3 separate regions of the Homo sapiens genome follow, and all the other regions are linked to region 2. The links come from fine-mapping of genetic effects on gene expression. A gene starts in region 2. Each other region holds a variant in brackets. All regions are shown on one strand. Distances are between the middles of the regions. Region 1 overlaps KIAA1755. Region 2 holds the start of KIAA1755. Region 3 has its middle 20 kb from the start of TGM2.

Evidence for each region. PIP is the estimated chance that this variant, and not a neighbour inherited with it, causes the effect.
Region 1: its variant is fine-mapped to the expression of KIAA1755 in lung (TOPMed, PIP above 0.99).
Region 3: its variant is fine-mapped to the expression of KIAA1755 in prefrontal cortex (ROSMAP, PIP 0.95).

What each region holds. Positions count from the first base shown.
Region 1 is chr20:38,235,787-38,243,968 of GRCh38, forward strand. KIAA1755 reads right to left here. Exons shown (of 14, transcript NM_001029864.2): 3 at 4,796-6,143; 4 at 3,742-3,939. Among named protein-coding and RNA genes, the nearest start is that of KIAA1755, 21 kb to the right of the region's middle. The variant G/A (reference allele first, on the strand shown) is at 4,817.
Region 2 is chr20:38,255,893-38,264,074 of GRCh38, forward strand. KIAA1755 reads right to left here and starts at 4,843. Exons shown (of 14, transcript NM_001029864.2): 1 at 4,606-4,843. The coding sequence starts at 4,608. LOC124904900 (a long non-coding RNA gene) reads left to right here. Exons shown (of 3, transcript XR_007067581.1): 2 at 1,194-1,371; 3 at 1,737-1,969. It overlaps LOC149684 (a long non-coding RNA gene), which reads left to right and starts at 4,283. Exons shown (of 2, transcript NR_104170.1): 1 at 4,283-4,464. RefSeq lists an enhancer at 4,601-5,100.
Region 3 is chr20:38,181,025-38,189,206 of GRCh38, forward strand. No RefSeq gene overlaps it. Among named protein-coding and RNA genes, the nearest start is that of TGM2, 20 kb to the left of the region's middle. The variant C/G (reference allele first, on the strand shown) is at 3,431.

The sequences.
Region 1 (8,182 bases), 20 kb before region 2:
TGGGAAACACAGTGCCTATTAAACAAAACCCCATCCCCAGCATGGGAGCAGACATTCACACCTGCATGTTGATCAGTTTCTTTCCTGAGAACAGATCTTTATGAAAACTTTACGGGGAGACCTGCTTCACAGGGCTGGCTTGGAGCAGATCTAGATCTTGAAGCACAGGCTCTGGGGACTGTTTGCCCTATAAGGAAACTCCAACAGAGGCCGGTGTGGACGCAGAGACACCAGCGAGGAGACCACTGCAGCAGGCAAGAGACCACGCTGGTTTGGACTTGGGTGGGGTGAAGTCAACAGATTCTGAATACAATTTAATGGGAGAGTTGACAGTTAACAAATTGAATGTGGGATGTAAGAGAAAGAGCAATCAAGGATGATGTGGTCATCTTTTACTGCCATGAGGAAAGACTGGAAGGTTGGGAAGTGTGGGGTGAGGGGATGTGAAGTCAGGAGTCCATATTTGGGCATGCTAAGTTAGAGATGTCTGTGAGACCTCCACGCAGAGACATCAAGTAGTAAACAGCTGGATGGATAAGTCTGGAGTTCATGGCCAGGGCCCAGGCTGGAAAAATCAGTGTCGGGGTTGTCAGCCTGGAGAGAGCATTTACAGAAAATATTCCACCTCCAGGATGAGATCGCCTAGGAAGTGAGTGTGGATGGAGAGGAGAAAGGGACCAAGGACTGGGCTTTGGGGGCCCTCCAGGATTTACAGGTTGTGGAGATGAGGAGACAGGAAAGGAGGCTGCAAAATTGTGGCCAGTGAGGTGAGAGGAGGACTGGGTGACTGAAGATCTAATGGCAAGTGAAGAAAGCCTTTCAACAGGAGGAAGTGGCCATCCATGCCAAATGCTGCGGAAGGGCCTAGGGTGATGAGGACTGAGAATCGACCCCTGGATCTAGAAACATGGAACGCAATGACGACCTTGACAAGACGTGTCTCAGTGGCACAGTGGGGAAGGGATTCTGATTAGAGTGAGTGGAAGAGAGAAGGTGTGGAAACAGGGAACACAGACAACTGCTTTGTGGAGTTTTAATGTAAAAGGGTGAGGGTGGGAACACGGGGGCCTAGAATAGCTCATTTCAAGCTGGGCAATATTGCAGCGTGTTCTCATCCTGATGGGAATGGCCCAGAGCCAAAGAGGAAAGATGATCCTGTAGGAAGGAGAAGAGAATCTTGCTGGAGGGATGTCTTTGAGGAGGTAAAGAGGAACAGAGCACGGGTTCAGGGTCAGCCTCAGGCACATGGACAATTCATCCATACTAGAATGCTGAGCCTGTGGGTACAGATGCCAGCAGGTAGGTGAATGACCTTCCTTCTGGTCTGACTGAGTAAGCAGAAGCAATTCATAGACTTCCTTCCAATTGCTTCTGCTTACTCACTCAGACCAGAAGGAAGGTCATCAGCTGAGATTTAAGTTGGGGAAGGTGGTGTTGAAGGTCAAAGGAGAGAGAAGGTGTGAAGTCATCACACAGGACTGTGGGGGAGTCATTCAGGACTCTGGAGGTGAAGTAGGATCCACTAGCACCATTGGGACCCCCAGAGGTCAGTGGTCAGGAATTCAACACAATTAGCCTGCACAATTGTGTGGATTTTTCCAGCTTCGTTCAGCTTGAGGGTGCAGGTGGAGAGTTGGATCTCACGGAGGTTGGGATTTATCTGGGTAAGTGTGAAGGTGGAAGAGGAAAGCAAGCGAGTGAGTGTTTGAAAGGAAGTGATTACAATGTGAGCCTGGAATCTAAGCTAGGAAGAAGGGATGTGAGGATGTGACAGAAGGTGGGGGAGACATAATGATGGGGAAGGGATGTGGTGGAGAGTGAGGAAGATATGATGATGGGGAAGGGATGTGGTGGAGGGTGGGGAGACATGCTGGAAAAGGGGAGTGAAAAGGTGGTTGAACCAATAGGTTCAAGGTTTTGGGAGGCCTGAAGATGATGAAACTTGGGGCAGTGGGTGACCTGGAAAGAGAAGCAGTGGTAATAAAGGAGAGGGAGCCTTAACATGAAAACCCGGCGGGGAGAAGTTGGTTACGGGGGATGCGATGGGGGGAGTCATGTGGGGAATGAGGACAAGATCACTAGAGAAGAGCAGGACAAAAAACGGACAGAAGGAGCACGCATGTGGACGTTGCTCATTCACACAGCAAATGCTTTTTGCACACATGCTACACATCAGGCATGTGCGAGCTAACAGTGCATGTTGCAACCCCCAAGAATTACAACAAAAGTAACTGAGGGAAGAGTGACAGTGAGCCAGGTCCTATCTGTCTATTCTCCTCCTCTCAAGGAGGCCCAGAGAGGGCAGTGACTTCTCCAAGGACACACAGGGAGCTAATGATAGAGTTAGAACTAAAACAAAGGTCACCTTCCTCCCATAGCAGAGCCTTCCATGGACAAAATCTGAGCCCTTGGCCCATGATGGCCCTAAGAGGATCATGAGATCCTTTGTGTACAATTAATATGGAACAAACAGCAGGAGCTTCAGCAAAGATGACCAGGAAAATGACAGATAAGGTCTCCTGGGAGCTGCAAAAAGACAGGGCAGTGCTCAAGGTCCTGAAGAGATATGGAAGTCTGTGAAGTAAAATAGTATTTCAGGACAATCAGTCTCCAGAAAGCACTGTGGTTCTCTTGTCTCTGGACCTTTGCACATGCTGTTCCCTTTGTCTGGAACGCCGTTCCCAACTCTTCACCTGGATAATTCCTACTCATACCATAGGACTGGGCTTTACGTTACTTCCTCCGGGAAGTCATCCTTGACCTCTACTACCCTAAGCCTGAACCAGGGGACTCATCTGTGCTCCCACAGCCCCCTGTCCTTCCCAACTGTCACACTTTGTTTACACTGGGTTTCAATAATCTGTTGTGATAACCTGTTGGCTTTTCCCCACCACTAGAATATAGGTTTCCTGATAGCAGAGAACACATCAGACTTGTTCTCTTATGAATCGCCAGTGCTAAGCCCAGGAACCAGTAAATGTCTGTTACAACAATGGGGAAATATTAAATACGAGTGATAAGACCTTCTGTATTGGATGCTGCTAGTACCCCAAACCCAGATCCCCTCAGCAGGCAGAGAACCCATCCCCAGAGTCTGAAAGTATCAGTTGTCAGTGGCTCACAGATGCCCCCTCTCTGAAGAAGCACTCTGGGCTGAACTGGATCACTGGCTCCCCCTGCCCCACCCCATTCCAGGATCAGCCCGAAGTTCCTGCAGTTCATTAATGACGGACAGACTGGGGATCAGCCCACAGTTAATGACTGACAGACAAGGCTTATAAAAGGCCAGTCCCCTACACCTTCAGCTGGAGCCAGCTCTGTGGGGCGGGTCATGCCCCAGTGCTCTCCTTGGGGTCAGCCCACAGCCTTGCTTGGCTCCTTCCCCTGCCTTGACCCTCTGTCCTTCTCCTCAGAGCCCTCCTCCAATAGGTCACTTTCCCAAAAATCTATGTCTCAGGCTCTGCTTCTGGGGAACCCAGTATCCACCTTGGCTGCTTCACTGATGGATGGACAAGTAGACAGATGGACAGACAGATAGATGGGTGGATGGATACCAACAAATTGCTTTCATCTATTCCAATTCTCCCATGGGAAAGATGAGGAAACTGAGGCCCAAGGAGGCTTGGTCTAGAACCTAGGCCTCCAGGGCATTCCCTGCCTCCCCTCCACCCAACAGCAGCTGAAGATGCTCTGGGGCCCCCAGCTCCCTCCCTACCACCTCCTGCTTGAATCCCCTGGAACCTGGCAGGCATGCTATCCTGGAGCGGAAAACCTTGACACCTAGAGCCCCAATCCTGGGCTCAGGCCCTGGGGGCTCCTCCTCCAGGGTGGGGCCTCTTTCTGGGGAGCCTGCAGAAGCTTCTGGCAAGGCAGCCTTTTCCTCAGTCAGTGGGCTGGGGGCAGTGGCTGGGCCAGATGTTTTGGTCTGAGTTGTTCCAGCTGGGAAAAAGCAACAACAAAGAAAAGGACGTTAAGCAGAAGATGGGCTTTCTAAGGGGAAAACGTCTCCTCTTTCTCTTTCTGACTAATAATAGCTTACAACTATTGATCTCTCCCATGTGCCAGGCATTGCGCTAAGCCCCTTACTTCTAGTGTTACCCCTCCCCACACCTCACTTTTTTTTCTTTAGTGACAGAGTCTCACTCTGTTGCCCAGGCTGGAATGCAGTGGCATGAACATAGCTCACTGCAGCTTTGAACTCCTGGGCTTGAAAGATCCTCCCACCTCAGCCTCCCGAGTAGCTGGGGCTAAAGGCATGCACCACGAAGCCCAGCTTTTTTATTTATTCCTTCCTTCTTTCCTTCCTTCCTTCCTTCCTTCCGTCTTCCTTCCTTCCTTTTTTCCTTCTTTTCTTTCTTTCTTGTAAATTCCTGGCCTCAAGCCACCCAAATTCTCCCGCTTCAGCCACCAAAGCACTGGGATTACAGGATAAGCCTCTACACCTAGCTTCTGGTGTCGCTTTGAACCCTCAAAATAACACTGTGAAATAGGTGACATTCCCATTGCACAGATAGGGAGAACGTGGACTCAGAGAAACTCAGTACTTGGCCAACGTCACACAGCCAGTGTATGGCAAAGGTGGAGTGTGAACTCAGGCAGTTGTAACACAGTCACAGTGCCTTGCTCAATTCCAGACACATGAGACTTCAAGCCCCTTAACATGCCACACTGTATACTAAACCCCTGAAGCTGAGCCAGCCCAGGTGGTCTCTATCACTTACAACCAAAACCACCTAAAATGTGATCTCAACCAGACAATAACCTCCTTGTACAGCTGAGCATGTGGGCATCTTACCTTTCCCCAAAGATTTGGCTC[G/A]GTTGGGTTTAGGAGAGTAGAGGGAACACAGGACTTTCCAGGGCCCATTGTGCTGGAGTGAGGCTTTCTCCGGGGTCACAGAGGGTTGCCTCTGCCCTCTCAAGAATGAGAATTTGAGCCCAGGAGTGGGGGGCTCAGGGGAGGAGGTGTTTCTGCTAGGGCAGGGCATGGGCTTGGGAAGTCTCCCATTTCTCTCTTTGGTCTTCACCTCTATCTTTGTTTCAGAGGCTGCAGCTGCAGGAGAAGCTGGGGACAGGCGGGGAGAGGAGGCTTGTCTTGGTCCAGGCCTGAGCTGCACCATATTCTCTGGGTTTCCTAGAGGTCCCTGCATCTTGGAGGCAGCTGGCTCTTGTGAGACACCTGCCCTGAGACCAGAGGCACAGTCCAGTGCGTCCTCAAGGACATTCATGTAGGAGCCTTGGGGCGGCCTTTCTGAGTTGTGGGTGGGTGCTTTAAGATTGACCTTTCTCCTGAAGCCCAAATTATAGGGCCTCTCCTCAGAGCTTTCTGGCTTTGTGCAAGCCCGATTTCCCAAGGAAGGTCCTTCATTGGCCTCTGAGAGAGGCAGTATCTTTTGAAATAAGGGAGTTTCCTTAGTTCCAGCTATCTCCTCTAGTGCCCCAGAAGTACACCCACTGGATGTGCCTGCCTCCCTACTGGGAGACTCTCCTCTGCTCTCTTGGGAAAAGCCTAGGAGAGCCACATAGTCTCCCTCGAAGTCCTGGCTGACCACCTCGTCCATCCTGAAAGCCACCTCCCCACACCGGGCTTGCTCCACCTTGATGAGTCCTGGATACTTGCTCCCATATGTCCTGCCCTTACCCTTGGCCAAACTCTGGGCAGGAAGCACCTGGTTGTCTGGGGAGCTGGCCTGGTGCAACTCTTGAGGGCTGCTCAAATCCAGTGCCTCTAATGGAAGGGGCCCCCAGGCTTGGCAGAGGGCATTCACTACTTGGGGTCTGTCATCCACAAACTCTGGGCTGGTTATCTTGGTCCAAGGCACAGGGGCAATCCCATTTTCTGATGCTACCAAGCAGTTGTGTAGGGGATTTCCCTCAAAGTCACTGTTGATGGCCTCCAGCCATTCTTGGGTGAAAAGTATAGGGTAGGCTGGCTCTGGAACAGGCTTCTTGTCCACTGTGCAGAGGTCCAGGGAGAGGCATTTGATCATGATGCAGACAGACTGCTCCTCCTGGGGCTCCACTTGGAGGTAGAAGTCACCCTGGCGCAATAAGAGAGGGTTGAGGGGTGCCAAGTGGACCACAACTTCATCCCTCAGACAGAGTGGCCAGCCCTCGTGTAAGAAGAGGCAGTGTGAGTAGGGAGCCTGTGGAGAGAAGGGGATGGCATCAGAGAACCTGGCCCTGAAAGGCTCCACCCTTGGATTTGCTCCTTTCCCTCTCCCACGTGGAATCTGGAACAGGTCAGGGACTAGGATGAGGCAGCATTTAGGAGGCACTCACTGTCAAGGTTGTGCAAAGGTTGACTCTCCTGCCCCACCCTCGTCCTGGCCCTGACCTTGGAAATCCTAGCCTACTGACCCAAGTGAGAAAGCTCAGAGCACCATGCACTAGTTAGCAATCGGCTTTCCCAAGTGGTCCCCTTGCTTGGCTCATGCTCCCTTCCTCTCTGCATCTATCCAGAACATTTCCCAACCCAATTCAAGTCTTAGCCCTCCATTTTAAAGCCAGGGAGACGTGGTTTAGACAAACGTCTATGTTGCTAATTTGTGCAAATTGCTTAACTTCTTTGAGCCCCAATTTCCCTATCTGCAAATAGGATAATAATACATGTCAGTATTACTGGGTTGGTATGAGGATTAAGTGAGATTATACAGATGGCCTCAATTTATGGTGGGGTTATATCCTGGTAAATCCATCATAAATTGAAACTATCATAAGTCAAAAATGCATTTAATGTACCTAATCTACAGAACATCATAGCTTATTTAGACTAGCCTATCTTAAAAGTGCACAGAGCACTTACATCAGCCTACAGTTGGCCAAAATCATCTAACACAATGCCTATTTTATAATAAAGTGTTGAACATCTTATTGAATTTGGATAGTGTATGAGGGTGAAGTAGAAACAGTATTGAATGAGAAGTCAGGAAATCTGACCCTGCCACTAACTTACTAGATGGCTGTCCAGTTTTTCCTGACCCAAAGGTTATTCTGGGCCTGAATGTTTATTTTTTATTTGTTTGTTTATTTATTTCTCATTAAATAAATGAAGGCTTATTTGTTTATTTTTTATTTATTTCCCATTAATGGATAATAACACGAAGGTGAAGCAAAACTTTAAAAAGAAATTTTTTTTTAACAGGAGTTGCCAGAAATTCCCTGTATAGGTGGGTACAGAGGGTCATTCTGGAACAGGCTGTGACCCAAGTGATCCCTCTCAGTTGAGCCTGTCCACTGGGCTGTGCGGGACCAGTGTTCAACAGTGACACCATGTGGCAACAACGGAAACAACAGCTCCACTGGGCTGACAACAGGTCTTTAACTGGCTTTTGGAAAAAGAGTCTGAGTTCTGTGGATTGAGTAAGTCCCAGACAATCTTATATAATTTGGATGTGTGTAGGGGAGATGTACAGAGAGTGAGACTGAATTTCCTGCTAATTAAACAGGTGTTTCCTGGAATTATTGATTGCGGAAATAGTGAGATCTGACCATAGTTATACCTTATGTTGATAAACCCATTTATATCAGTCATATTGTAGATTGGGCTGCCTCAGAGAAGCTTAATATCCATAAACCTTCATGAGTCTGTAGGTTTTCTCGACCCTTTTCACTTAGCCCTCTTGGGTTTGCAACATGCTTTCTCTCTCACCTTCTCATTGAATGAGAAAAAACAGCCCAGCCATTTTTTGCAAACAGCAAAGCACCAGAGTGATGATGGCTTTGCTCATCTCACTTGACTTTCACAGTAACTCAGTTTGATGTAGGCAGTCCAGGCATTATTATTTTCATTTTACAGATGATGCAACTGAGGCTCAGTGTGGTGAAACATTTGGCTCATAGCCACACAGCTGATAAGCATCAGGGACTTGGACCTAGGCCTTCACATTTCAAGTCAGCTGTATCTGTCCCCAAGCCCCACCAGACTTCATGTGAAGGTGGCTGCTTCTGGGTGATGGTGGCTGGAGAGGCAGACTTTGAGGCTGCCATGCTCTTATTTCAGATGGAGAAACAAGGAAGTGGGATAGCGATAGCCAATAGCTACTGGGCACTTGCTGCATGCCAGAGTCTTTGCTAAGCCATGTGTTGTCATCTCCATGTGTTGTCATCTCCATGTGTTAGGTGCTGTGTTATTAACGTTTCTGCTTGACACATAAGGAAACTGAAACTCAGAGAGGTGGCATGG
Region 2 (8,182 bases):
TCCCCTTTTCCTCTGCCTTGGGCTCACCATCTCCCACCCAAACCACATCATGATCACAATTGTAACCAGAGCTGCTTCCTACTGTCTTGTGTGTTAGGCCCCTGCTAAGCATTTTTCATTAACTATTTTATCTCAATAATTCTATGGGCTGGGTATTTTTATTCCCATTTTACAAGTTAAGAAACTGAGCTCAAGGCTCTACTGCTACTAAATGGTAGCACTGGGGTATGACCCTGGGCACATAACCACCAGCTGTCCTGTCTCTTTCCCCGGGCTCCCTGCTACCACGCCAGGCTCCTCTTAGTCATCATAGTGGGCTTCCTAACACAGAGATCCAACTGTGACCCTCCACTGCTCAACAACCTCGGGTGGCTCCCTATTGCCTTAGCAACTCACTGGTCTGGTGCTGTGGCCCGTCAGTCAGCTCCCAGCTTACCTTCCCTACTTCTTCTAAACATACTTTATGCTGTAGCCCAAGGCTTTCCAATCATCATGGGCCCCTTTCATGAGGTTCTTTCTGCCATGTTCACATATTCTAATTTGTTATTGGCTTACTCTTTTTTATTAATTATTATTTACTTAACGTTTGACTTTTTGTCAATTCTTTTTCAACTTAAATCTATTTTTTGGCTGGGTGTGGCGACTCATGCCTATAATCCCAGCACTTTTGGGAGGCCAAGGCAGGAGAATCGCTTGAGCCCAGGAGTTCAAGACCAGCCTAGGCAACAGAGGGAGGCCCTATCTCTACAAAAAATAAAAAGTTAGCTGAGCATGGTAGCACGCACCTGTAGTCCTAGCTGCTTGGGAGGCTGAGGTGGGAGGATTGCTTGAGCCTGGGAGATAGAGGCTGCAGTGAGCTATGATCATACCACTGTACTCCATCCAGCCCAGGTGATGGAGCGAGACCCTGTCTCAAAACAAAAAATTATTTATATTTATTATTATGTGTTTGTGCTGTTTAAATTCCTTCCTAATACTCATTAAGATGAAAAGCTGTAAACTAAAAATTGTTCATCTAAGTGCCATCTAAAATCTCCCCTCCTGGAACCTTTGGTGGATGCCACATCTTGGAAAGTGCTGCCTGGACACACATCTGTGTCTCTGCTTCCACTGCCCCACTCCCTGGACTGAGCAACCTCCTGCCCACCCTTCAGAGCCCTTCCAGACTTGCTTCTCTTCTCTTTGCTTTTCAGGACACATGTGCTTCCAGGCAGAAGGATGGACCCCCACCACCCATCAGACACAGCCTAGAATTATCTGTGGATGAACCTGCCTTCTCCATGGACTGCCAGCCCCCAAAGCAGGAACCACGTCCTTATAGAGGGCCTGGCACACAGTAGGGAACTGGGGTGGGGTACTGCCATGCAGCAGGTATGTGGGCAATGTTGAATGGATTAAACTGAACTTGGCTAGGGTGGTGGCTCATGCCTGTAAACCGAGCACTTTGGGAGGTTGAGGTGGGAGGATCACTTGAGGTCAGGAGTTTGAGACCAGACTGGCCAACATGGTAAAACCCCATCTCTACTAAAAATGCAAAAATTAGCTGGGCCTAGTGTCACACACCTATAGTCCCAGCTACGCAGGAGGCTGAGGCATGAGAATTGCTTAAACCTGGGAGGCAGAGATTGCAGTGAGCCAAGACAGTCCCACTGCACTACAGCCTGGGCAATAGAGCGAGACTCCATCTAAAAAAAAAAAAAAAAAAAAAACCTGAACGTGACCAGTTTTTCTCACAGGTGGCCCACAAAACAATTTTGGGAGAACATAGATTGATGTGAAATCACAGCGAGAAAGTTACTCCAGTTCTCTTCCATTCCTCACGATGACACCAAGGACAATACCTCAGTCTGGAGCCAGTCTATCTCGAAGACCTCTCAGGCACTTACTCATCACTCTGTTTAACAAAAGAAAACAGTCCTCGGGCTTGAAATTGTTCACCACCAACCTCATCCAGCCAGAATTTACTAACACAGATTTGCCTTCATTGAGTACATATTTTTATAGTTACTTTTTTTTTTTTTTTTGAGACAAAGTCTCGCTCTTGTCCTCCAGGCTGGAGTGCAATGGTGCGATCTCGGCTCACTGCAACCTCCGCCTCCGGGGTTCAAGTGATTCTCCTGCCTCAGCCTCCCGAGTAGCTGGGATTACAGGCACCTGCCACCATGCCCGGCTAGTTTTTTCTGTTTTCAGTAGAGACGGGGTTTCACCATGTTGGCCAGGCAGGTCTTGAACTCCTGACCTCTGGTGATCCGCCAGCCTCGGCCTCCCAAAGTGCTGAGATTACAGGCGTGAGCCACTGCGCCCGGCTTAGTTACTTTCTATTTATGACAATGGATACTGATTTTTTCATGGTTGTGATATAAAATTTTCTATTTAAATATATTTTTCAGTGTACAAAGTAAGTTGATTTAAAGAAAAATATTGAGCAAATAATAAGTAGTAGATTTTATCATTTTCTTATATATTTTATCCAGTAAGTGGATGTGTAAAAGTTGTTTCAGTGATACTAACATTTGGGAACCATGGGACAGGATCAACCCTAAGCCCCTTTGCCATAAGATTCTCTGACATGGGGGTGCCCCCAAACACTAGACAGCTGTTAATCAAATGCCCCACAAAAATTACAGCTATGATGGGTTATCATAAAGGAAAGATACATGACATGCTAGAGTAAGAGTCAGGGAAATCAGGGAAGGCTTTCCTGAAGAGGTGACATTTGGGTGAAGATTTACCGGGTAAATAAGAATTCATTAGGTGAAGGTATTCCTCCAAGCAGGAACAGCATGTGCAAAGGCCCTGGGGCAGCAGGGAGCGTGAACCATAAGAGGCTCGCAAGCAAGGCTGGAGTGGCTGGAGCACAGAAGTGAGGCCAGGGAGGTAGGCTGGCAACAACCTTTATTCTTTAAAAAACAGGCAAGGGAAGGAAATCTGCACATTGTTCCCAATCTGGAAAGAGTTGCTCACCCTTTGACAGGGGGCAGACCAGTGCCTGACCCTTGATCTGAGGATCTGGGGTTCAATGAGGGGTTTCTAATGACTAGGTTAGGTGTGAAAGCAGGAGAGGCTTGGCAAACACCAGGTGCACGCTGTGGCCCTGGAGTGACCATGACCGCCGAGTGCAGGCTCAGAATTCAGACTGTCCTAACTTGCACTTTCTGGGTGGGGTGACCTTGGGCAGCTACTTAAGTTCCCAGAGCCTGAGGTCCCCATCTGTTGGAGATAGCCGCAGGTCTAATCTTAGAGTTGGTATGAGTTACTGACTCCTGGATGTAAATCACCTAGCACAGGGCCTTGCCTGTAGGGAGAGGTGAATAACCACTGGCTTATGAGAGTATTTTCAAACAGCTCCAAGAGCCATGTGTGTGTACACCTGTCCCCGCAGTGCATGGATGTAGGTGCCCGGTTTTGCAATATGTCTGTGGTGTGTATGCCAATGTATGCCCATAGTTTAGCAGTATGGGGGAGCAGGTGCAGAAGGCATGGGTGTATGAGAGGGTGTGAACATGTGTTCAGCTGTGTGAGTCAGTGGGAGCATTCAGGTGTGCTCTGTGCGTGCATGTGTATGTGTGTGTGCATGTGTACGTGTGTGTGCATGTGTACGTGTGTGTGAGTGCCTGCGTGTGTGTGTGTGTGTGTGTGAGAGAGAGAGAGAGAGAGTATGAACACCTCTATATGGAATTCTTCTGCTTGTGGAGATGCATTTGCTGTGAGTGAAAACCCACACAAATTCAACATGGTTGGTCACAGTCACAGGGTTAAAGCCTTGGCCTGTCTTCACAGCTTTTTTCAAAATCCTTACAGCCCCTGTGAATCTGCCTGGGGCTCTTGTATCTGTCTGGAGCTGGGCTGAAATCCTCCAAAAACAGACTTTTCTTTCATTCCCTGTTGCCAGATACTGGCACAAACGCATCCCTGCCACCACCACCACCACACACACACACACACACACACACACACACACATTCTCCCAGAATGTCTCAACTTTTTTCAAGGTTCCAGCTCCAAAAGTCCCTTCCTCTTCCCTCTCCCCAGCCAATTCCCATGGAAGCACCCTGGGTTTCAATGTGTATATCTGACTTTCCATAGCTGAGTCTAAAACAGCAAAAGCATCCCAAGTTTTGGTAAGCAGTTCTCTCCTTTTCACCCTGGACCCTTAACCCTCCTCGCCCTGCACTGCCTGGCTGGCCTGGGAGGGGACTTTAACCCCCACCACCACTCTTCCCCATCCAAACTCCCTGCCGGGACAATGTGCATATCACAGTCAGTTCCAAAACAAACATGCAAAACCACCCCGTTTCAGCCCTCAGCCTCAGGGCTGAGATTCAGGCTCAGGTCTAGGGGTTGGGGAATATTAAAGTTTACAAGTACAATCTTACTCCATCCATACACACACATGGAGAAGCCAGGAGAGGACGCGGCCAGAGATGGGCTCCTGCCCTTGAACCCCTGCTGGGGTGGAAGCAGGTAAGCACAACCCTGCCAAGGCACTGAGGGTCGTCTCAGTGTAAAAGGCCAGGGCCACCCGGGGCTGTTCTGCAGGGAATGGGGAGGGCTGTGCCCACTGAAAGGGGGCAGAGCGAGGTGGTCCAGGCCTTGGCGCGTTACCATGGTGACGGGCTGCCAGCGGCGGGCGGCGCGGCTCCTCTCCTGGGCGCGGGGTCTGTGGGTCCGCGGGTCCGTCTGTCTGGGGCAGCCCTCGGTCCCGCCTAGCCCTGGAGCCAGGGGATAGGGCAGGCCCGGGGCACCGACCCCGGCGTCATCTCGGAGGAGCGGCCGGGGAGGACAGGGAGAGAGACTGAGAGAGAGACAGAGAGGGACTGAGGCTGGAGACGGCGAGAGACATAAGGGAGCCGCGGGCGGCGCGGGTCGGGCCACCAGACGGGGGGCGGCAGCAGAGGCGGGGCGGGGCGGGGCGCGGCGGGACAGCGGCCCCTTTGTGCCTGAGCCCTTTGTGCCCAGCCCGCGCGCCCCGCCCCCACCGCCCCCCCTTCCCTCCGTCCACCCCCTCAGCAGCCAGCTGGAACCCGAGGAACCCGAGTCCGCCCCGCCAAGTTTTCCTCCCCGCTCCTCGCTCTTCCCACGGCGCACCCGGCCCGGACAGCCCCATTGTACAGACCCGCAGAGCGAGGCCTCGAGCCGCAGCAGCCGGGTTAAGCGCCCGCGGACCTCGCTGGCAGGCCCAAGTTCGAGTCTCCTCCTCCTACACTTCCCAGGGAGTCACAGACTCTCTTAAGCTTCGATTTCTTCATCTGTAAAATGGGGTGGGAGGAGGATGATGATGATGATGATGATGATGATGATGATGATGATAGTGCCTGCTGCTTAGATTTGGTGATGAGGAGTAAGCATCTGTCCCAGCGCCCTTGAATTCTCCCACATTATGCCCCATCATGACGGCCTAATTCAAGGCTTTGAGGTGATGATGGCTGTGTGCGAGTTCTGTTCTTGACTCTCAGATAATGACCTTGGCCAAGTCGGTATTTCCTACTGAGCCTCAGCTTTGGAGTGAGACTAAGAAACTAGATGACCGCTAGGGTCTATATGTGTGTGTCCCCTCCCAAATTCGTATGTCCAGACCTAATCCTCAGTATGATGGCATTAGGAGGTGGGGCCTTTGGAAAGTGATTGGGTCATGAGAGGACAGAGCCCTCACGAATGGGATTAGTGCCTCTCTCTATATATATATATACACCTACATATATATACCTATATATATACATATATACACCTATATATATACATATATACACCTATATATATACATATATAGGCACTAATATGTATAGGCATATATACACACACATATATATACACACACATATATATACACACATATATACATATATATACACACACACGCACACACATATATATTTGAGATGGAGTCTCACTCTGTTGCCCACCCAAGCTGGAGTGCAGTGGCATGATCTCAGCTCACTGCAACCTCTACCTCCCAGGTTCAAGCAATTTTCCTGCCTCAGCCTCCCGAGCAGCTGGGATTTTAGGCACCCGCCACCACACCTGGCCAATTTTTGTATTTTTAGTAGAGACTGCATTTCGCCATGTTGGCCAGGCTGGTCTCGAACTCCTGACCTCAGGTGATCTGCCCACCTCACCCTCCTAAAGTGCTGGGATTACAGGCGTGAGCCACCATGCCCAGCTTAGTGCCCAAGAGGCCCCAGAGAGCTAGCTGCCTTGCCCCTTCCACCATGGAAGGACACAGCGAGAAGGGGCTGTCTATGAACCAGAAAGGCCCAGAAACATAAGGTCCAGAAAGAAGGCTCTTACCAAACACCCAACTTGCTTGTGCCTTGATCTAGGGCTTCCCAGCCTCCAGAACTGTGAGAAGAGAATTTCTGTTGTGTATAAGCCCCTCAGTCTAAGGTATGTTGTTATAGCAGCCCAGACTAAAACAGTGACCAAAGTTATTCCTGGTTAGATGGCTCAGGGTTTTGTCCATTTATTTATCAAACACTGTGCACTGAGTCAGCCTGTCTCCCCCACTAGACTATACATTACTTGAGAGTCCCGGCCCTCAAGTAATGTACAGTCTAGTGGGGGAGACAGGCAAGGAGCAGATAAACAGGAAAAATAAAAAAATAATAACTGTGGTAACTGCTAAGAAGGAAACAAACAAATGTTGACATTGGGAACAGTAGAGGGATCAACTTATAGCTGGTGGTCTAGGAAGCCTGGGTCTGAAAGCCTAGATCTGAAAGGGGAGGAATTAGAAGAGTGGAGATGGGGAGACGCAGAGGAACCAAGTTCTAAGCAGAGAGAACCGCATATGCAAAGGCTCTGAGGCAATATTAAGCTTAAAGGAGCTGGGGAGTAAGTGAAGAACTGAAAAAGACGAGTGTAGTTGTAAGGGTTAGAGTTCAGACCCAAGCCTTATTCACAGCCCATCTCCCACCCCACATAGGTTAATCAGTCTTTTAGCAGAGAAAACCTGAATTAGGAGCCATCCTATCCCAACTTTTGATAAGTTCCTTCACATCCCCGACCTTCACTTGCTTATCACTAATTTGGGACTAATAATCCCCTGCAATATTTCCACAGCCCAGCAATCAAGTAAACTCTCTCTACAGGAGATGGTCTGGATGGTTTTAGTATCATGACTCCAGATGTGAATTTAGGAGAGAACAGACTTGATGTTCAGTACAGAATTCCACTGAGAGTTGTGGGGTCACAGCTTGAAGGTTTTAGAGTCCCAGGTTGCCATGAGACAGAATTGACATGACAGCCAGCGTTCTGGGGTTGCAGGCAACAGAAGCGGATTCTGAGTTAATTAAGCAGAAAAGAATGGATTGGCAGTCAGAGAATCAATGCGAAGGCTGGGGCCTATCCTCTGGAAAGCACTGGAGTAAGTAGGATGCTCTGGGGGGTCTCGTTATCGGAAAGAGTTGGAAACGTTTGAACACATGGAATTACATTAAGACAAACAAACACACCAAAGTAGAACTTTATATGTGTCAGGTAGTTTTCTAAGTATATAACAGTTATGAAGTAGATTCTATTATTGTCCTCACTTTACAAATGAAAAACTAAGGCACAGAGAGGGTATGTAGCCTGCCCAATGTCAGATAGCTAGTAAACTGTGGATTTCAGAATTGGACACAGCTATCCAATTCCGTAAGTTATGTTATTAACCACTTTGCTATGCTACCTGCATAAATCCTAACCATTCTCTCTGCCCTTGTGTTCCTCACTGATGGACTCAGAACCTTAAAAGAGCCAGGCATGGTGGCATGCTCCTGTAGTCCCAGCTACTTAGGAGGCCAAGGTGGGAGGATCACTTGAGCCCAGGAGTTCAAGGCTGCAGTGAGCTATGATTGCACCATTGCACTCCAACCTGGGAGACAGAGTGAGACCCCATCTCTAAAAAACAAACAAACAAAATAAAACCTTTATAGAGAAATTCTAATTGCGTCATGTGCCCAGGGCCTCACTAAGACTGCACCTACACATATCAGGAATAGTTGGTCACCCAAAAGGAAATTAAATTGCATAAGAAGGAGAAGAAATGAATATGAAATTGTCCATAAACAAGTGCAATTACAGCCTGGGCACAGTGGCTCATGCCTGTAATCCCAGCACTTTGGGAGGCCGAGGTGGGCAGATTGCCTGAGCTCAGGAGTTTGAGACCAGCCGGGGCAACATGGCAAAACCTTGTCTCTACTAA
Region 3 (8,182 bases), 75 kb before region 2:
TCTCTGGAGCTTCGGTTTCCCCATCTGTCTAATGGGAGTGATAAATGGAGTGATGGCTGGCACTGATTATCAAGCACTCGGGCATCTCCTCCAATTCTCCCAAAGGCCCCAAGGAAGAAGAGGGTCTGCCATTATCAGTGCCCTGTCCACCGGCAGAAAGTGTGAGGCAGAGCTCGTTGTGGAAAGCAAGGCTCATAATTTACCTCACTAACCTGTGTGGTTCTGGATGGCACAGAGCCAACTGGGACTCTCGTTTTTCTCATTCTGGTCCCTACTCCCTTCTTCGTGTGACCTAAGACCTTAACAGCTGTGTAAGTGAAAGTGGAACAAACAAAGCACCCCCTGAGAGACTTCTCATGATACCAAGGGGCAGCCCCAGAGGACAGACCAACGCTCCTCTCAATCCCTAAAAAGCCTCTGCCTGACTGAGCACAGCTGGGAGCAGTGATGTCAGGCCTGGCTTGGTAGATCAAAGCAGCAATGGCCCCAGGGCCTGATGGGTGCACGGGAGGGGCAGGGCTGAGTAGTTGATCTAGCTCTTAAAGATCCTTGAGCTTGAAGTCACCCTGGGACAGCCTCAGCAAGCGCTCAAGGCTGGCACTTGGGAAAGGTCACATGGCTTTGATGCTTGGCCAGTTTTAGATGGGGAGAAGCACTACTATGTTAGAGTCTAGATTATCTTAGAAACCCAACTCTACCCAGGAGTTCCTGAAGAAAGACCCTGAAATCTCTCAGGCAGCAAACGGAGGTCAACTTGGTCACCAAGCGTGGCTTGGTGCCCACTCTGGACCCAGCTCTGTGCCAGGCCCTGGGGGAGATGAAGAAATGAGGCAGGCCTGTTTTCTTTCTGTGGCTTCAACAGAACATCTGTGGTTTCCCCCTAATTAATCGTAATACATGCTCACTGTTTAAAATTTATAAAATACAGAACAGCCAAAAGATGAAAGTTAAAGTCAATCCAAGTATCACCAACAAAGAGAACAACTGTTAACATTTTGTTTTATCTTGTTCAGTGTTGCTATATCATATTTAGGTGTATGTGTAGATACAAACTCACATAATTATGTATTTAGTTTCTAAAAATGGAATCACTCAATTGTCCAGGAAATGTTTGTTGAACATTCACCCTGTGCCAAGCATGTGGCAGGCAGCGGACCAGAGGATGCGATTCCTACTGTCATGAAAGTTGCCTCTAAGCACTCTTTTGTCCCTTGCCTTTTTTCACTGTGTGCCTAACATTTTCAAATCACATGTATTTCTACAACATATTTATTGGCTATCAAGAATTTCATCACATGGCTGAATTTGTCAAGCCCCACTTTTCTTGCGCATTTAGGTTGCTTCCCATTTTTTCACTACTGCAAACAGTGCCATCCCTGTAGCCTTGGGCTCATAAGGTGGATTGGCTTATTCCATATCAATTTCAACCCCCTCTTATATGCCTTCCTCAACTGCAGGGGCTGGAAGGGTGAAGATTGCATTTCCCAACTCCCTTGCAGCTAGGGTTTAGAGACCAATTAAGTAGTTCCCATTAAATGCATTTGTGTGAGGTTTTGAAGGCAAAAGTAAGAGAGAGGTCATCTTCCTCCTTTTGCTGGTTGTGAAGGCATTGAGACCTCCCACAGGTGTGTCTACAGTGCCTGGTCACCAACTCTTGGGTGTTGAGAAGTGGTGATGGGGCATCAGCCGCATCTGATGGCTGGAGTGAAGCTAAGGTGACAAACTCCTGAAGACAATAGTTCCCAAGCTTCTGGGTGGTGGCAGAGGCAGCAGCTTTCCTGGGCAGGCCAGTTTAGCGGTGACATTCTAAGAATCGCTCCTAGAAGCCCAGGTCCCTTGCTTCAGAATTTTCCATGATTTTGCAAGAACACAACTTCTCGCATTAAATCTCCCTATGTTGAAAGTAGTGAATGTGGTTTCTGTGTCCTGCACCTGCACTCTGGGTGATATAAGCTACATCTTTGAGCCTGTTGGCAACTATTTCCTTAGACTAAATCTCTACCATGGAACTTATAAGTCAAGAATTCATTTTTTTTTGTTTATTTAAATAGTTTTACTGAGACATAATGAACATACCATGTTTAAAGTGTACAATTTGACGTTTAGTGTATTCACAAAGTTGTAGATCTATCATCATCATCTAATTTTGGAACATTTCTTCACCCCAAAAAGAAATTTCATGCCCATTAGGAGTCAATTCCTTACCTCTCTCCCCACTCCTAGGCAACCGTGAACCTATTTCCTATCTTTATAGGTTTACTTATTCTGGGCATTTCATATAAATCAAATTATACAATATGTTATCTTTTGTGGCTGCCTTCTTTCACTTAGCATAATGTTTTCAAGGTTCATCCATGTCGTGGCACATATCAGAATTGTATTTCTTTTTATTACTGGATAATGTTCTGTTATATGAATATACCGCATTTTATTTATCCATTCATCAGCTGATAGACATTCGGGTACTCTCCACTTTTATTTTATTTTTAGAGACAGGGTCTTGTTCTGTAGCCCAGGCTGCAGTGCAGTGGCACAATCACAGCTCACTGCAGTCTCAACCTCCTGGGCTCAAGCGATCCTCCCCCCTTAGCCTCCTGAGTAGCTGGGACTACAGATGCGTGCTACCACACTTGGCTAATTTTATCTTATTTTATTTTATTGTAGAGACAAGGTCTCGCTATGTTGCCTAACCTGATCTCAAACTCCTGGGCTGAAGCGATCCTCCTGCCTCAGCCTCCCAAAGTGTTAGGATTACAGTCGTGGGCTACTGAGCCTGGCTTGTTTCCACTTTTAAACTCTTGTGAATAATGATACTGTGAACATTTGTGTACGTGTTTTTGTGCGGATGTATATTTTAATTTCTCTTGGGGAGGCTTGTGTCAGTGAAAGTTGGGGTGTTGGTCGGGGGCCGAGCAGGCTGTAGTGGTACTTGGGAAGGAGAAGGAAGGGGAATGGAGGCTTACTGTAACATCCAAAAAGCATGATGATAAAATTGCAATTGGATTGTGCCTGCATTTCTTCTGGAAAACAAGACTTGAATGCAAAGACAGCACCAAACAAATCTAGAATGACGAGCCTCAACATGTAGTCTAACAAGATGGTTTCAGGCCCAAGTGATGTAACTGGTGGAATTTGGAGGAAGAATCCTTCCTTTGAAGTTTTTCTATATTGTTGTGCTGAGAACGCTTCATGGTATTCAGTCAACTGGAGCGTGTACGTGGAGTTTTGATATTGCCGCCTGCCTTTGGCCAGCAGAACAGTTTACTCCTCCAAGAGCTCACTCAGGTGAAAAGTCAGGAATTTACTCAGACATTCTGACACATGTGTCATCAATCTTGGCGTTTCCTCCCCCTGACATTGATTTATTACAGTCTCTGGCTCCGTCTATGTGTGGATGGAAGATGTCTGGGAAAGTCAGAGAAGCCTGTTA[C/G]GAGTTTGGTCTCCAAATCCAAGGATTGATATTTTTGCCGGATTGGACTACTTCTGTTTGAAAAAGAGGCCGGGCGTGGTGGCTCATGCCTGTAATCCCAGCACTTTGGGAGGCCGAGGCGGGTGGATCACCTGAGGTCAGGAGTTCGAGACCAGCCTGGCCAACATGGTGAAACCCCGTCTTTATTAAAAATACAAAAAAATTAGCTGGACCTGGTGGCACATGCCTGTAGTCAATCCCAGACACTCAGGAGGCTGAAGTATGAGAATTGCTTGAATCCAGGAGGCGGAGGATGCAGTGAGCCAAGGTCACACCACTGCACTACAGCCTGGGTGACAGAGTGAGACTCCATATCAATACAAAAAAAAAAAAAAACGAAAGAAAAAAAAAAAGAAAAGGGTGGTGGTGGGAGTTATTGTTGGTTATCTCCTGGTACTTGTCTTCCTCTTCTTCTCTAATAAAGGAATTTTTAGCAGAGAAAAAAACATTTCTCTTGGATCTATATACCTAGAAGTGGAATTGCTGGATCACATGGTAACTCAATGTTTAACTTTTTCAGGGACTACCGAACCGCCTTCCAAAGTTGTTGCACGATTTCACATTCCCACTAGCAATGTATGAATTTCCAATTGTTCCATATCCTCGCCAAAACTTAATGTTGTCTCTCATTTTCGTTAGAGCCAGTCTAGTGGGTATGAAGTCATATTTCATGGTTTAGATAGACATTTCCCTAATGACTGAAGATGCTGAACATCTTTTCATGTGCTTACTGGCCATTTGCATGTCTTCTTTGGAGAAATATCTCTTCAAATCCTTTGCCCATTTTTAGGTTATTTGACTTTTATTTATTTATTTAGAGACAGAGTCTCACTCTGTTGCCCAGGCTGGAGTGCAGTGGCACACCCTCGGCTCACTGCAACTTCCACCTCCCGAGTTCAGGTGATTCTCATGCCTCAGCCTACCCAGTAGCTGGGACTACAGGTGCCAGCCACCATGCCCAGCTAATTTTTGTATTTTTGGTAGAGATGGGGTTTCACCATGTTGGCCAGGTTGGTCTCAAACTCCTGACCTCAAGTGATCCACCTGCCTTGGCCTCCCAAAGTGCTGGGATTACAGGTGTAAGCCACTGCACCTGGCCCCTTACATTTTATTATGTATATGAGTTGCAAAGCTTCCTTATATACTCTGGATACAAATCCCTTAATAAGATATGTGATTTTCCTTTTTTTTTAGTTTATGTGGGTTGTCTTTCCACTTTCTTGATGATATTGTTTGCAGCAGAAAACTTTTTAATTGTAATGAAGTTCAGTCTTTTTTTCTTTAGCCATTTGTGCCTTTAATGTTATATATAAGAAGACTTAGATTAACCCAAGGTCATGAAAGTTTAATCCTGTGTTTTTTTCTAAGAGTTTTATACTTTTAACTTACATTTAGGTCTATGATCCATTTTGAGTTGATTTTTGTGTATGGTGTGGATGTGAATATCTAGTTGTCCTAGCACCATTTGTTGAAAGACTCTTCTTTCCCCTGTTGAATGAATGGTCTTGGTACCATTGTTGAAAGGCAATTGGCCATAAGCATAAAGGTTTATCTCTGGATGCTCAATTTTATTCCCTTAATCTATATGTCTATCCTTAGGCTGGTACCAAACTGTCTTGATTACCTGAGCATTGTAGTTAGTTTATTTGGGGTCTCTTGCAATTCCATATGAATTTTAGGATCATCTTGTCAATTTCTGCAAAAAAAAAAAAAAAAAAAAAAAAAAAACCAGCTGGAATTTTGACAGAGATTGCATTGAACCTTTAGACGAATTCCAAGAGTATTGCCATCTTAATAATATTAAGTCCTTTGATCCATGAACATGGAGTCTGCCTCCATTTATTTAGATCTTTCATTTCTTTCAACAATATTTGGTAGTTTTATGTATACAAGTCTTGTATACCTTTTGTTAAATTTATGCTTAAGAATTTATTCTTGTTGATGCTATTGTAAATTAAATTGTTTTCTTAATTTGATTTTAGATTGTTCACTGCTGGTGTATAGAAATATAATTGCTTTTTATGTATTGATTTTACATACAGGTTGCACAACCTTGCTGAATTTGTTTATTAGTTTTAGTAATTTTCTAGTTGATTCCTTACCATTTTCTTGTATATAAAAGATTATATCATCTGCAAATATGGTTTTATTTCTTTCCCATCTGGATGTCTTTTATTTCATATTCTTAACTAATTGCTCTGGTTAGAACCTCCAGTACGATGTTGAATAGAAGTGGCAAGAATGGGCATCGCTGTCTTGTTCCTGATCTTTGGGAGGGAAACATCTAATCTTTTGCCAGGAAGTATGATGTTAGCCGTAGGTTTTTCATCGATGCCCTTTATCAGGTTAAGGGCACCTATTTTTTTGAAGGCTTTTGTTTTGTTGTGTGAATCATGCTTCTTTGAGATACCAGTCATTCTTTCTTGGCTACTCCCTTGGCCACATAATTCCCATGACAAGCTGGGTCACTACAAAGGAATAGCCTTCAGAAATGACCAAAATTCTCCAGGTAATGAAAAATCAGCAGAAAGGGGGAGGAGGGGTGGAGGAGGGAGGGGGGAGGACGGGGGAACACACATCCTCTTCCTTGATCCAATTACAATACTCCTGCTTGTGCAACCAAATACAGAACTGGCCCTTTGGTGACTGTAATTAAAATGTGGGTCCCTGGCTGGGCACAGTGGCTCACGCCTGTAATCCCCAGCACTTTGGGAGGCTGAGGCGCACAGATCACCTGAGATCAGGAGTTCAAGACCAGCCTGGCCAACATGGCAAAACCCTGTCTCTACTAAAAACACAAAAAAATTAGCTGGGTGTGGCAGGATGCGCCTGTAGTCCCAGCTACTCAGGAGGCTGAGATAGGAGAATTGCTTGAAGCCGGGAGGCAGATCGCGCCACTGCACTCCAGACTGGGAGACAGAACGAGACTCCATCTCAAAAAAAAAAATGTGGGTCCCTTTATGAGCTTTCAACTAAATTAGTGGTTCTCAACCCTCAGTCCAAAGCACCCCCCACTTTAATCACTTTTTAATTGAGGTATAGCATTGTGACAGTTGATTCTATGTGTCAACTTGGCTAGGCCACCATCTTTTTAAAGATGAAATTAGTATTTAAATCAGCCGAATTGAGTAAAGCAGATCACGAAGGTAAAGCAGCAGACAGAGTGAAGCAATCTGATTACCGTGTGGGTGGGCCTTGGTCAATCCATTAAAAGCCTTCATAGGAAAGGACTGAGTTCTGCCAGCAGGCGGCCTTCAGACTTGAACTGCAATGTCAGCTCTTTTCTGGGTCTCCGGCCTGCCAGCCTAGCCTGCAGATTTGGGACTTGCCAGCCTCCAGTCATGTAAGCCAATTCCTTAAAATAAAATAAATCTCTCCCCTCTTCTCTGCTCTCTCTGTCTCTCTCTCTGTCTCTCTCTACACACATACACACACACACACACACACACACACACACACCCCTATTGGTTCTGTTTTCTGTTTCTCTGGAGAACCCTAATACGAGCCTATATACAGAAGAGTGCACATCACTGTACAACTTGATACATTTTTACAAACTGAACCCATCAGATCACGAAACAGGAACATGACCATCACCCCGGAAGTTCCCCTTGTGCTTCCATCCACCCTCCATCCCCCACAGGTAATCACTGTCCTGCCTTTTAATAGCATGGATGAGTTGTGCTGATTCTAGAACTTTCTATAAGTGGTGTCACTCAGCACGCACTCTTTTGTGGCTGGCTTCTCTCACTCAACCTTATGCTCGTGTGAGACCCATCTGTACTGCCAAGTGTAGTTGTGAGTGACTGATTCTTCCTTCTGTGGGTGCTCCATTGTGTGGCTCACCTCAGTTTATGCATCCATTCAGCTTCGAGATATTCAAGATATTCATGTTGTTTCCAGTTTGGAACTATTACAAATGGTGCTGCTGTAAACATTCTTGCACATATCTTTTTTTTTTTTTTTTTTTCAGACAGGGTCTCACTCTGTCACCCAGGCTGGAGTGGTGTGCCACCATCAGGGCTCACTGCAGCCTCTACCTCCCTAGGCTCCAGCGATCCTCCCACCTCAGCCTCCCAGGTAGCTGGGACTACAGGTGCGTGCCACTATACCTGGCTAATTTTTGTATTTTTTGGTAGAGACGAGGTTTTTTCACGTTGCCCAGGCTGGTCTCAAACTCCTGGGCTCAAGCAATCTACCACCTCGGCCTCCAAAAGTGTTGGGGTTACAGCCATGAGCCCCTGCACCTGGCCACATATCTTTTGATGAACACGTGAACACATTGTAGCTGGGTTTAAACCCACAAGTGTGATTACCCAAGCCCCCTTTCTCTATCAAACATTTTAAGCTTTCTTTCATTTAAATGTTCGAAATGAAACTTATGGATGATAATGCACACACACATCAATGCAATGTCTCTAATATAAAGGAGACATAAAATGGAAGTGACTTATGATAAAATAATGTGTATTTCAATATATTCTTGGGCACAACGACCCCAGAAGGCATAATGAAGATGCCAGAACCCTGTATGCCCATAATTAGTAAGTCTGGATTCCAGAGATGTAAGTAGACCAGACGCCATGGCACAAAAGAAGTCAGAAAAATGAAATGGCAGGAGGTGAGGGTGAAGATTAAAATCTGCTGTTTGGGCAAGACATAACAGACTTGACTTATTTGTATGTGATAACAGAAAGAAAGACTTTAATTGGA